Linked DNA regions of Homo sapiens: region 2 is linked to region 1. Evidence: fine-mapped expression QTL. Tissue or cell type: lymphoblastoid cells. Region 1 holds a variant in brackets; the other region holds the start of a gene. All regions are shown on one strand. Distances are from middle to middle.

Region 1 (5,368 bases):
ACTCCAGCCTGGGTGACAGAGACCCTGTCCCAAAAAACAGGAAAAAAAAAGTAGCCAGTTAGATAGGAGAGTATTTGAGGGTAAATAAAGTAGCTGGGCATGATGTTTGAGCCCAGGTCAGGCCAGCCTGGGTAATATAGTGAGACCCGGTCTTTTAAAAAAATAAATAAATAAGGCTCAAAGGACAAAAGAAAAATGCAAATGAGTGTTTTGTGATGAATGTGGAACTTTTTTTTTTTTTGAAACGGGGTCTTGCTCTGTCACCAAGGCTGAGTGCAGTGGCTGGAGCATAACTCACAGCAGCTTCTAACTCTTGGGCGCAAGCAATCCTCCCACCTCAGCCTCCTGAATAGCTAGGGCCACAGGCGTGTACCACTGCACCCAGCTAATTTTTGGATTTTTTGTAGAGACAGGTCTCCCTCTGCTGGCCAGCCTGGTCTTGAACTCCTGGGCTCAGGCGATCCTTCCCCTCAGTCTCCCAAAGTGCTAGGATTACAGGCATAAGCCACTGCGCCTGGCCTTGGAACTCTAAGTGTACCTTTTCAGCATGGTTTGGAGAACTATTTTTGTCAAAAAACATTCTTTGGATACAATTTTGCCAAAAGAGATAAATATTCAATAAAATTACTTTAAGTCTTTCCTAGGACTCTAGGAGAGTCAGGAATGCCACGTTGATTCTCCAGTATTGGATGGTAGAAAGTGTGACCTTGGAGCTTGGGTGGACAAGAGGAGCTGAATGTGCTAATGAAGGCATTGTTCAGTGTCACAGGCACATAATCACTTGTAAGATTTTAGAACTAAAAGCAACAATGACCATATCCAGTGCAACCTTGACTACGTAAAATGCAGACTGGGAGAGGCAGAACTGCTAGGAGGTCAGAACAACTCTGAATAAAAACTGGCCAGCATTCAGGCCAGGCGCTGTGGCACATGCCTGTAATCCCAGCACTTTGGGAGGTGGATCACTTGAGGTTAGCAGCTTGAGACCAGTCTGGGCAACCTGGTGAAACCCCTCGTCTCTACTAAAAAGATAAAAATTAGCTGGGCATGGCATCGCGCAGCTGTAATCCCAGCTACTCAGGAGGCTGAGGCACGAGAATCTCTTGAACCCAGGAGGCGAAGGTTGCAGTGAGCTGAGACTGTGCCGCTACACTCCAGCCTGCACGACAGAGCCAGACTCCATCTCAATAAATACAATAAATAAATAAAATTAGCCTGCATTCAAATCACTATTCTGCAAATTACTAGTAGTCATCTCTGGGTAAGTGTTTAATCAAGTTTTTACATCTCTAATGTGAACAGTATGCCTATCTCACAGGGTTATTGTAATGGTTAAATAAGATACTACATGAAATGCTTTGCTTGAATCTTCACATCTAGTGACACCAAAAGATAGTTTTTCTATTATGAAAGGAATGAGGGAAGATGACAATGTAGCGTATCATATAGTAAGTTTGCATTCGAAAAACAGAAGAGGGAGTTCAAATCCATTGATCCCGGCCTGGCGTGGTGGCTCAGGCCTGTAACCTCAGCATTTTGGGAGGCTGAGGTGGGTGGATCACTTGAGGTTAGGAGTTCAAGACAAACCTGGCCAACATGGAGAAACCCCGTATCTGCTGAACATAGAAAAATCAGCCAGGCATGATGGCGGGCGCCTGTAATCCCAGCTACTGGGAAGCTGAAGCGGGAGAATCGCTTGAACTCAGGTGGCGGAGGTTGCGGTGGGCCGGGATCGCACCACAGCACTCCAGCCTGGGCAACAAGAGTGAAGACCTGTCTCAAAAAAAAAAAAAAAATAGTACCTACACCTCATAAATTGTTAAAAATACTAAATACAGGCTGGGCGGGTTGCTCACGCCTGTAATCCTAACAATTTGATCCGCTGAGACGGGAGAATCACCTGAGCTCAGGAGTTCCAGACCAGCCTGAGCAACATGGTGAAACCCCTAATTTATCAATCTAAAAAAATAAGAAGGAAAGAAAAAAAGCTAAATACACACCATGGCACTTGACCCATAGCAACTGTTGAAAAACCACAATGGCACGGTTACTAAATAAGCGAGGCATAGCCTTCTCCGGCTTAGGGGTAAAAATGCCCAGTTCCGGTTTTGAGGCAAATGAGGAGATACTAGGGATGAGCTGTCAGAGTCGACTCTTCAGCCATCAACGCCTCGCGGTGCTTCCTGCCTGCCCTTCCTCAGATGCTCCCCTTGCCCTATCAATACGTCCACCCCAGGTAGGTCGGACACCCTACGAACATTCCGCGTTCCCCGGGAGCAAATGATGCTAGGAAAACAGGGTGCGGGCTCTTATTTGGCCGGAGTGGAGTGACCAGGTCAGCGCCGCAGCTGCTAACCACCACCAACCACAGTTTTGAAAGTTCCTGGGCTTTTTCCGGCCTGAGGGCCGACGCTGTTTGCAAAATCACAAGCACTCCTTAGAGCGGGGTTAGGAATCTAGAGTTTCCAAATCCCTGGAACCTTTAGCATCTCGCCAAGCCTCCCTCATCAAAGGAGGGAAGTGAAATCAGAGCCCCACTCCGGCTGTTTTAGAAGTTTTCCCGAATCCGTGATCCCTTTACAAAGCCCGGGCCCTGGCCTGCGGGGCGGGGCGCGCGAACGGCGAGCTATTCCACCAGAGATCCCTCCACGACCTCCAGCGGCATCCGCGACCCTGCAGCTTGCTCTCCAGCCACGGCGAGCACGGGCCGGGGGAGAGGCGAGCGGGAAGGGCGAACGGCGACCCCCGCGCTGCCCCGCGGCCGCTTCCCCCTACGGTGCTGCCCCAGGCAG[G/A]AGGCGGACAAGGCTCATTTGGACCCCCCGAGGCCGGTGCAGGCGGGCTTGGGCCCTCCAAAGGCTCAGCTTTTGGGTTTCTAAGTAAAATATTGGAATAATAAAAATAAAGGAAGTGACGACGGCGCGAAGGACGGCCCGGGCCTGCGAGGAGAGGCTGCCTCATCCTCCACCCGTGAGGGGGCGCCGTGAGGGGTCTGCGCGGAGGCGGGGGGAGGGGAGGCCGGGGGGAGGGGAGCCCTGGGGGAGGGGACAGCAGGGAAGGCGGGGGCCTCAGGCACCGAGGAGGAGAGGGCAGGGGCGCGGGGGCCTCACCGGGGGTCCTCGAAGCGCACGAAGGCGAAGGGCACGAGGCCGTGCCGGTTCTTGAGCTCGATCTCGCGGATGCGGCCGTACTTGTAGAACAGGTCCTCCAAGTCCTTCTCGCGCACGTCGGTCGGAAGGTTCCCCACGTAGATGCGCCCGTCGCCCTCGCCGCCGCGCTCGTCCGCCCAGCCCGACATCCGCACCGCCCGACGCCGCGGGCCCGCCGCAGCCCACGTCGCCGCCGCCGCCTCAGCACGGGTCCCCCCGCAGCGTCCCCGCGGGCTCCGAGGCGCTCAGCCGCACTGCATTGTGGGAACGCGGAGCGGAAGCGAAGGGGTCGGCGGAGGCAAAAGGAGTCCTCTTAAAGAGAACGCGGCTGCGACCATTGCGCGTGCGCGCAGGCCGGCGCCCCCTGGAGGTGCGAAGGGCCTTCGGGCGCTGACAGGGAGAGCCTGGGGCCGGGCCGTGTGGATGCCATCCCCGAGCGCGGTTCGCGCTCGGCTGAGGCGCTGGACAAGTGGCTTGGGCTCCCGCGCCTCAGTTTCTCTCTGTGGCGCCGCCTACCTCACAGACTTGTGAGCACTCACTGACGTGGGTAGCGCCCAGGGCCTGCGGGGCGCAGGAGAGCTGGAGTCAGGCGGAGACCGCAGGCTGACCCCGCAGCGGCCGGGCTGTCGCGGCCCCCACCTCAGGTCAGTAGGCCCCCGGGCCACCCTGTCCCCATTTTACAGTTGCTCAGAACTGACGGTGTCAGCATGAGATGGACTCCATAGCTTGGCCTTGAGTTTGTCGGAGTCGAGGGAGTAAGACTCTTAATGAGTATCACAGCGATCACTATAGAGTGCATCCGACTTGTGCTTTTCATCCTCTCCCGGGCAGAGTCTGAGGCCACAGAGGGGTCAGGAATGGAACCCAGAGCCATGCTCCCATCCTAAGTACTGAGTCCTTATGGAGCTCAGGTAGACACCCACCTTGGCACTTACTTTTCCACATTCACATCCCAGAACGCGGAGCATTGAACCCAGGGACCTTACAGTGAGGCCTTGCACCAGAAGACTTTTTGTTTGTTTTTGATACAGGGTCTTATTCTGTTGCTCAGGCTGGAGTGCAATGGCGCGAACACGGCTCACTGCAGTCTCGATCTCGCTGGACTCAGGTGATCCTCCCACCTCGGGGCGCCGTGAGGGGTCTGCGCTGCGTCCAGCTAGTTTATTTTCTATTTTTTTTGTAGAGAGGCTGGTCTCGAACTCCTGGGCTCAACCGATCCTCCAGCCTTGGCCTCCCAAAGTGTTGGATTACCGGCTTGAGCCCGGCGCCCGGCTGGAATACTCCTAACCTAAAGATTGTTCAGGCTGGGTGCGGTGGCTCACGCCTGTAATCCCAACACTTTGAGAGGCCAAGGCGGGAGGATCACTTGAGGTCAGTAGTTCGAGACTAGCCTGGGCAACATGGGGAAACCCCGTTTCTACTAAAAATACAAAAATTAGCTGGGCGTGGTGGCGTGTTCCTATAATCCCAGTTACGCGGGAGGCTGAGGCAGGAGAATTGCTTGAGCCCGGGAGGCGAAGGTTGCAGTGAGCCGAGATCATGCCACTGCACTTCAGCCTGGGTGACAGAGTGAGACTGTCTCAAAAATAAATAAAGATTTTTCATATTAAAAATGAAACCTGGCTGGGCGTGGTGGCTCATGCCTGTAATCCCAGCACTTTAGGAGGCTGAGGTGGGTGGATCACTTGAGGCCAGGAGTTCAAGACCAGCCTGGCCAACATGGCAAGACCCGCCCCCCTACTAAAAATACAAAAAAAAAAAAAAATTAGCCAAGCTTGGTGGCACGCCTGTAGTCCCAGCTGCTTGGGAGGATGAGGCACGAGAATCGCTTGAATCTGGGAGGCAGAGGTTGCAGTGAGCCGAGATTGTGCCACTGCACTCCTCCAGCCTGGGTGACAGAGGGAGACTCTGTCTCAAAAACAAGACAAAACAAAAACAAACAAAAAAAGGGACTAAAACCACACATTTAATCAGAAGGTAGTTGATTTCTCATTATACCATCTGAGCATTTTAAAATCAAAACAAACCAAAGACTAGACACCCACATATACTACTGAGTGTATATCTTTTTTGGAATACAAGTTGATAGTATACATCAGGCTTTCATAATATACATATACCCTTCGATCTTGTAATTCTGCTTGTAGGATTTTTTGTTTGTTTGTTTTGAGACGGAGTCTTACACTGTCACCCAGGCTGCAGTGCAGTGGCGTGATCTCGGC
Region 2 (5,351 bases), 22 kb before region 1:
ATTCCAAGTATCTTAATTCCTGAACTGCACACTGAGAGCTCTGAAATGGTGTTCACTGCAACATTCTTGCAGCTTTCACATCTTAATCTGACACCTCTTGTGAAGGCAGGGAACTGTGTTAAAAGCTGTCTTCCTCTTTGCTAATCCAGGCCACCATCAATCTTAACCATTAGTTACTATATAAAAATAAAAGTGTGCTCAAAAGCACTCACTGAAACTGTTGTGCCCAGATCCCTTTTCAGAGCATTAGTTCCCTGAGAGGAAAAAAAGAGGTCCTAACCAATTGCTTTCATAAATAGTGACCCCAGTACAGTGTATATGTCTTTTGCAGCAGAAATCAAGAGGTCAGGCAGCTCTGCTCATCCTGACTAGTTTATCATCGTTTGCATACAAGGTATATTTATGTAAAGCTGATTCCACGCCAAGTATTGCAACCATAATCTCAAAAAAATTGTTCAATTTTAGCACACAGTTCCTGCAAGATACCACAGCAGGTGAGAAATCATCTCAAAGAGTTCATCTTTTACAACTGAGAGGAAAACATCGAAGGAGGAAATAAAACTCCTCTCTCCTAAGTTCCTCATCAAATCTGATGGCTATGTTCACAGAGTTAGTTGACAAAAATCCAGAGTCCTCAATTTCTGGACTTGCGAAATCCTTCAAGGTGACTGTCAAGGTCAAGAAGAATTTTCAGGCTTTTCTTTGCCATGGCCCATGAACTCCAGTCCTTCAATAGGAATCTCTTTCTCCTTTATTGCTTTCTGGTAGGAGGAGAAAACACATTATAAAGACCTACATGAAGCTTAAGTTGCAAGCTTTGTAAATAAAATATGACAGTACAAAAGTAAAATCAAGCTGATTATAAAGACTTATAACCATGATTCAAACCACATACTTTTTAAAAAACAAGTACCGGTCAGGTGTGGTGGCTCACGCCTATAATCGCAGCATTTTGGGAGACCAAGGCAGGTGGATCACTTGAGGCCAGAAGTTAGAGACCAACCTGGCCAACATGGCGAGACCCTGTTTATACTAAAAATACAAAAATTAGCTGGGCATGGTGGCGCATGCCTGTAAGCCCAGCTACTCGGGTGGCTGAGGCATGAGAATAGCTTGAACCTGGGAGGCGGAGGTTGCAGTGAGCTGAGATTGTGCCATTGCACTCCAGGCTGGGAGACAGAGTGAGACTCTGCCTCAAAAATAAATAAAAACCAGAAGTACCATAATGAATAAATCAAGTGTAAGACCTGAGGGAGACTGGAAAAGGAGTTGTGAGGGAACCGTTAAAATTAAGTGAAATTTGAAAAATAATCATCACTTTGTGTTAGTGAAAGACTTAGGTTCAAATCTGGGTTCCAGGACTTACTGGCTATGTGACTAACTGTAAATGGGATGAAGACAGCAACTACCTCGGGGAATTGCTGTGAGGATGTGTTGGGTTAACTTATTGGAAGTGCTTTGCCCGGTGCTGTTCTTAACAATTCAAAGCAGTTCCACATCCATTGGGCCAGAATAAACATTTCCTGGCTGCAGTTGCGGGGACTGGTCAAGAGAGAGAAACAGGCTAACGAAGGGTTTATAACAACAAAAAAATGTGACCCTCCAGTCTGAATTCTGAAGTATAATCCCGCCCAGACCCCAGCAGTAATAGTGGAAAAGTGCACCACCTGCGAAAGAACCAAGGAAACCTGATGCTAGTGAACTCGGATTAATCACTTCCTATTTCTGGGTGTTAGTTTTTTATGTATAAAATATGAGTAACTATGCCCACCTTGCGAGTTTAGGGTGAACACCAAATGAACCAAAGGATGTGACTGTGCTTCTTGAAAAGCACTGCCCCAATATTTGTCATTCGGAGAGACACCCAAGTGGCCTCGGTGGTGATGGTAGGGGAGCGAGCTCCTGCCACTGGCCTCACTGCGACTTTTCTCCACCCTTCCAGTCCAGTCCCAATCCCCGTAAAATACGATGAGTGTGGTGGGACACAGCGCCGAGAATGCAGGGCCTGGGAACAGAGGCGGGAGGGCTCACCTGAACACACTGCTGGTAGCGCTTGAAGAGGTCGGTGCACGGGTCCCCGGAGCTGTCCCCCTTGAGAAATTTCTCGGCGAACCAGCGATTGAAGCACTGGTCGTACTCGCGCTTCATGTCCGTGCATGCCTCCCCCACACTGTTCATGGCGACAGTGGTGGCGGCGGCGACGACGGCGCACTCTGATGTCATCACTCTCAGGCGCGTCGCTCGGCGTTACGCGCGGGCGCACTGCGGGGGCCAAGGAAGGAAGAAATGTGGTCGCGGTTGGTGTGGCTGGGCCTTCGGGCCCCTCTGGGCGGGCGCCAGGGCTTCACCTCCAAGGCGGATCCTCAGGTAAAGGCCAGGGCCATCTAGGCGGGTGGCGGAGCAAGCCGGGAGGCACTTCGGAGCGCCGGTGACCCACACTCCCCGCCTCATCCCTCCTCCAGGGCAGTGGCCGGATCACGGCTGCGGTGATCGAGCACCTGGAGCGTCTAGCGCTTGTGGACTTCGGCAGCCGCGAGGCAGTGGCGCGACTGGAGAAAGCTATCGCCTTCGCCGACCGGCTACGCGCCGTGGACACAGACGGGGTGGAGCCCATGGAATCGGTCCTGGAGGACAGGTAAACTCGCGGCTGCAGCCCCGAAGCCTTGACCGTGGCCCGTTCGCAGCCGTTTAATGTGACGATTAGCGAACAGTTTTCCAGGGGGTTAAAGAGTGTTAGCAAGATTCAGGAACTTGCCCACAGTCACCTCGCGAGTCAGTGGCTTCACTCTTCCCCTTGTTCATTACTGATGCTCTCGCTAGTGTAAGTGGAAACAAAACCCGAACTGCTAATCACTGCCTTTGTTTTTTTTTTTGTTTGTTTGTTTTGTTTTTTTTTTTTTGAGACGGAGTCTCGCTGTGTTGCCTAGGCTGGAGTGCAGTGGCTCGATCTCGGCTCACTGCAACCTCCGCCTCCCGTGTTCAAGCAATTCTCTGCCTCAGCCTCCCGAGTAGCTGGGATTACAGGCGACTGCCACCAGGCCCGGCTTATTTTTTTTGTATTTTTAGTAGAGACGTGGTTTCACCATCTTGGCCAGGTTGGTCTTGAACTCCTGACCGTGATCCACCCGCCTCGGCCTCCCAAAGTGCTGGGATTACAGGTGTGAGCCACCGCGCCTGGCCTAATCATCGCCTTTAAGGCCCTACTCCATAGAGTCCCTACCTACTCACTCCAACGTACTCTTCTCAGTACTCTCCTTGGCTACCTTGACTGCTTCTCCAGCAAGACAAGTTCTTTTCCTCTCTAGATCTCTGCACTGGCCCTTCGTTTTTTTCCTTCCTCTCAGTATTTGCATGGCTGCCTCCCTCTTGGCACAGGTCTCAGCTTATCTTCTCAGAAAGGGCTCTCCTAACCACTCCAAATCCCTTCTCCCCTTCTAGTTAGTAACTCATCCTATTGGGTTTTTTCCCTAACATTTTAATGGACTTTTGTTCATTTGTTATATCTCTTTTATTAAAATGTGAGCTCATTATGTAGTTACTGTTTTATTCCTGCCTTGAATTTTTATTTTATTTGTTTTTGAGATGGAGTCTCACTCTATCACCCAGGTTAGAGTGCAGTGGCATGATCTCAGCTCATTGTAATGTCCACCTCCCAGACTCAAGAGAGCCTCCCATCTCAGCCTCCCAAGTACAGGACCACAGGCGCGTGCCACTTGGCCTGGCTAATTTTTTGTATTTTTGATAGAGACGGGATTTTGCCATGTTCCCCAGGCTTGTCTGGACTCCTGAGCAAAGGTGATCCACCCATCTCAGCCTCCTAAAGTACTGGGATTACAGGCATGAGCCACAGCACCTGGCCGTGTTTGATTCTTTCAAATGTCTTCTCTACTTTGCAATTTTCTTTTTCCTTTGGGACGGGGTCTCACTATGTTGCCCAGGCTGGTCGCAAACTTCTAGACTCAAGAGATCCTCCTGCCTCAGCCTCCCAAATAGCTGGGACTATAGGTGTGCACCACCACACCTGGCTAATACTTAAAATTTTTGTAGAAACGGGGTCTTGCCATGTTGCCCCATATGGTCTCAAACTCCTGGTCTCAAGCAATCCTCCTGCCTCAGCCTCCCACTTCCTCAAGAAAGTTTTTTTTTTTTTTTGAGGTGGAGTCCTGCCCCATCACCCAGGCTGGAGTGCAGTGGCATGATCTTGGCTCACTGCAACCTCCACCCTCCAGGTTCAAGTGATTTTTGTGCCTCAGCCTCCGGAGTAGCTGGGATTACAGGCACCCGCCACCACACTCAGCTAGTTTTTGCATTTTTAGTAGAGACAGGGTTTCACCATGTTGACCAGGCTGGTCTCGAACCCCTGGCCTCAAGTGATCCGCCCATCTTCGCCTCCCAAAGTGCTGGGATTACAGGTATGAGTCACTGCACTGGCCAAAAAAGTCCATTCCTTTTTTTTTTTTTTTTTTTTTGAGACGGAGTTTCACTCTTCCACCCAGGCTGGAGTACAGTGGTGCAATCTCAGCTCACTGCAACCTCCACCTTCCGGTTTCAAGTGATTCTCTTGCCTCAGCCTCCCGAGTAGCTGGGACTACAGGCGCCCGCCACCACGCCCAGCTAATTTTTGTATTTTTAATAGAGACGGGGTTTCACCATGTTGGCCAGGCTGGTCTCGAACTCATGACCTCACAGTCCACCCGCCTCGGCCTCCCAAAGTGCTGGGATTATAGGCGTGAGCCACAAGTCTTCATTCTTTTATACTTAGGTTCTTTTTTTTTTTTTTTAATTGAGACAAGAGTCTCGCTCTGTCGCTGAGGCTGGAGTGCAGTGGCGTGATCTTGGCTCACTGCAAGTTCCGCCTCCTGGGTTCATGCCATTCTCCTGCCTCAGCCTCCCAAGTAGCTGGGTCTACAAGTGCCCACTACCACGCCTGGCTAATTTTTTGTATTTTTAGTAGAGATGAGGTTTCACCGTAGCCAAGATGGTCTCGATCTCCTGACCTCGTGATCTGCCCACCTCAGCCTCCCAAAGGTGCTGATTACAGGCGTGAGCCACTGTGCCTGGCTATACTTAGGTTCTCTACCTGTGGCTCTCGTGATATCCAAAAGGGCTGATTTATACATGCGTTTATACATCTATTTAAGGGATGTGTTGAGTCTCTGCCCCTCTCCTGCTCACCCACCTTCCACAGCATGTCTGTTTTTCCTTATCATGTTCTCAGTGGTTGGCACTGAGTATTCAGTAAATGTGTTTTGTTTTGTTTTGTTTTGTTTTTTTGAGATGGAGTCTCACTCTGTTGCCCACGCTGGAGGCAGTGGCGTGATCTCGGCTCACTGCAACCTCTGCCTCCTGGG

What was found.
Region 2: it holds the start of GATC, and the variant in region 1 is fine-mapped to the expression of GATC in lymphoblastoid cells (GTEx, PIP above 0.99).

Annotation. Positions count from the first base shown.
Region 1 is chr12:120,466,315-120,471,682 of GRCh38, forward strand. It overlaps SRSF9 (serine and arginine rich splicing factor 9), which reads right to left and starts at 3,434. Exons shown (of 4, transcript NM_003769.3): 1 at 3,108-3,434. The coding sequence starts at 3,295. It also overlaps a transcript of DYNLL1 not described here. RefSeq lists silencers at 2,673-2,842, 3,093-3,392. The variant G/A (reference allele first, on the strand shown) is at 2,793.
Region 2 is chr12:120,444,195-120,449,545 of GRCh38, forward strand. GATC (glutamyl-tRNA amidotransferase subunit C) reads left to right here and starts at 2,250. Exons shown (of 4, transcript NM_176818.3): 1 at 2,250-2,367; 2 at 2,463-2,635. The coding sequence starts at 2,287. TRIAP1 (TP53 regulated inhibitor of apoptosis 1) reads right to left here and starts at 2,190. Exons shown (of 2, transcript NM_016399.3): 1 at 2,032-2,190; 2 at 1-761. The coding sequence starts at 2,178. The coding sequence ends at 678. RefSeq lists enhancers at 1,372-2,219, 1,531-2,730, 1,945-2,494, 2,092-2,386, 2,220-3,065.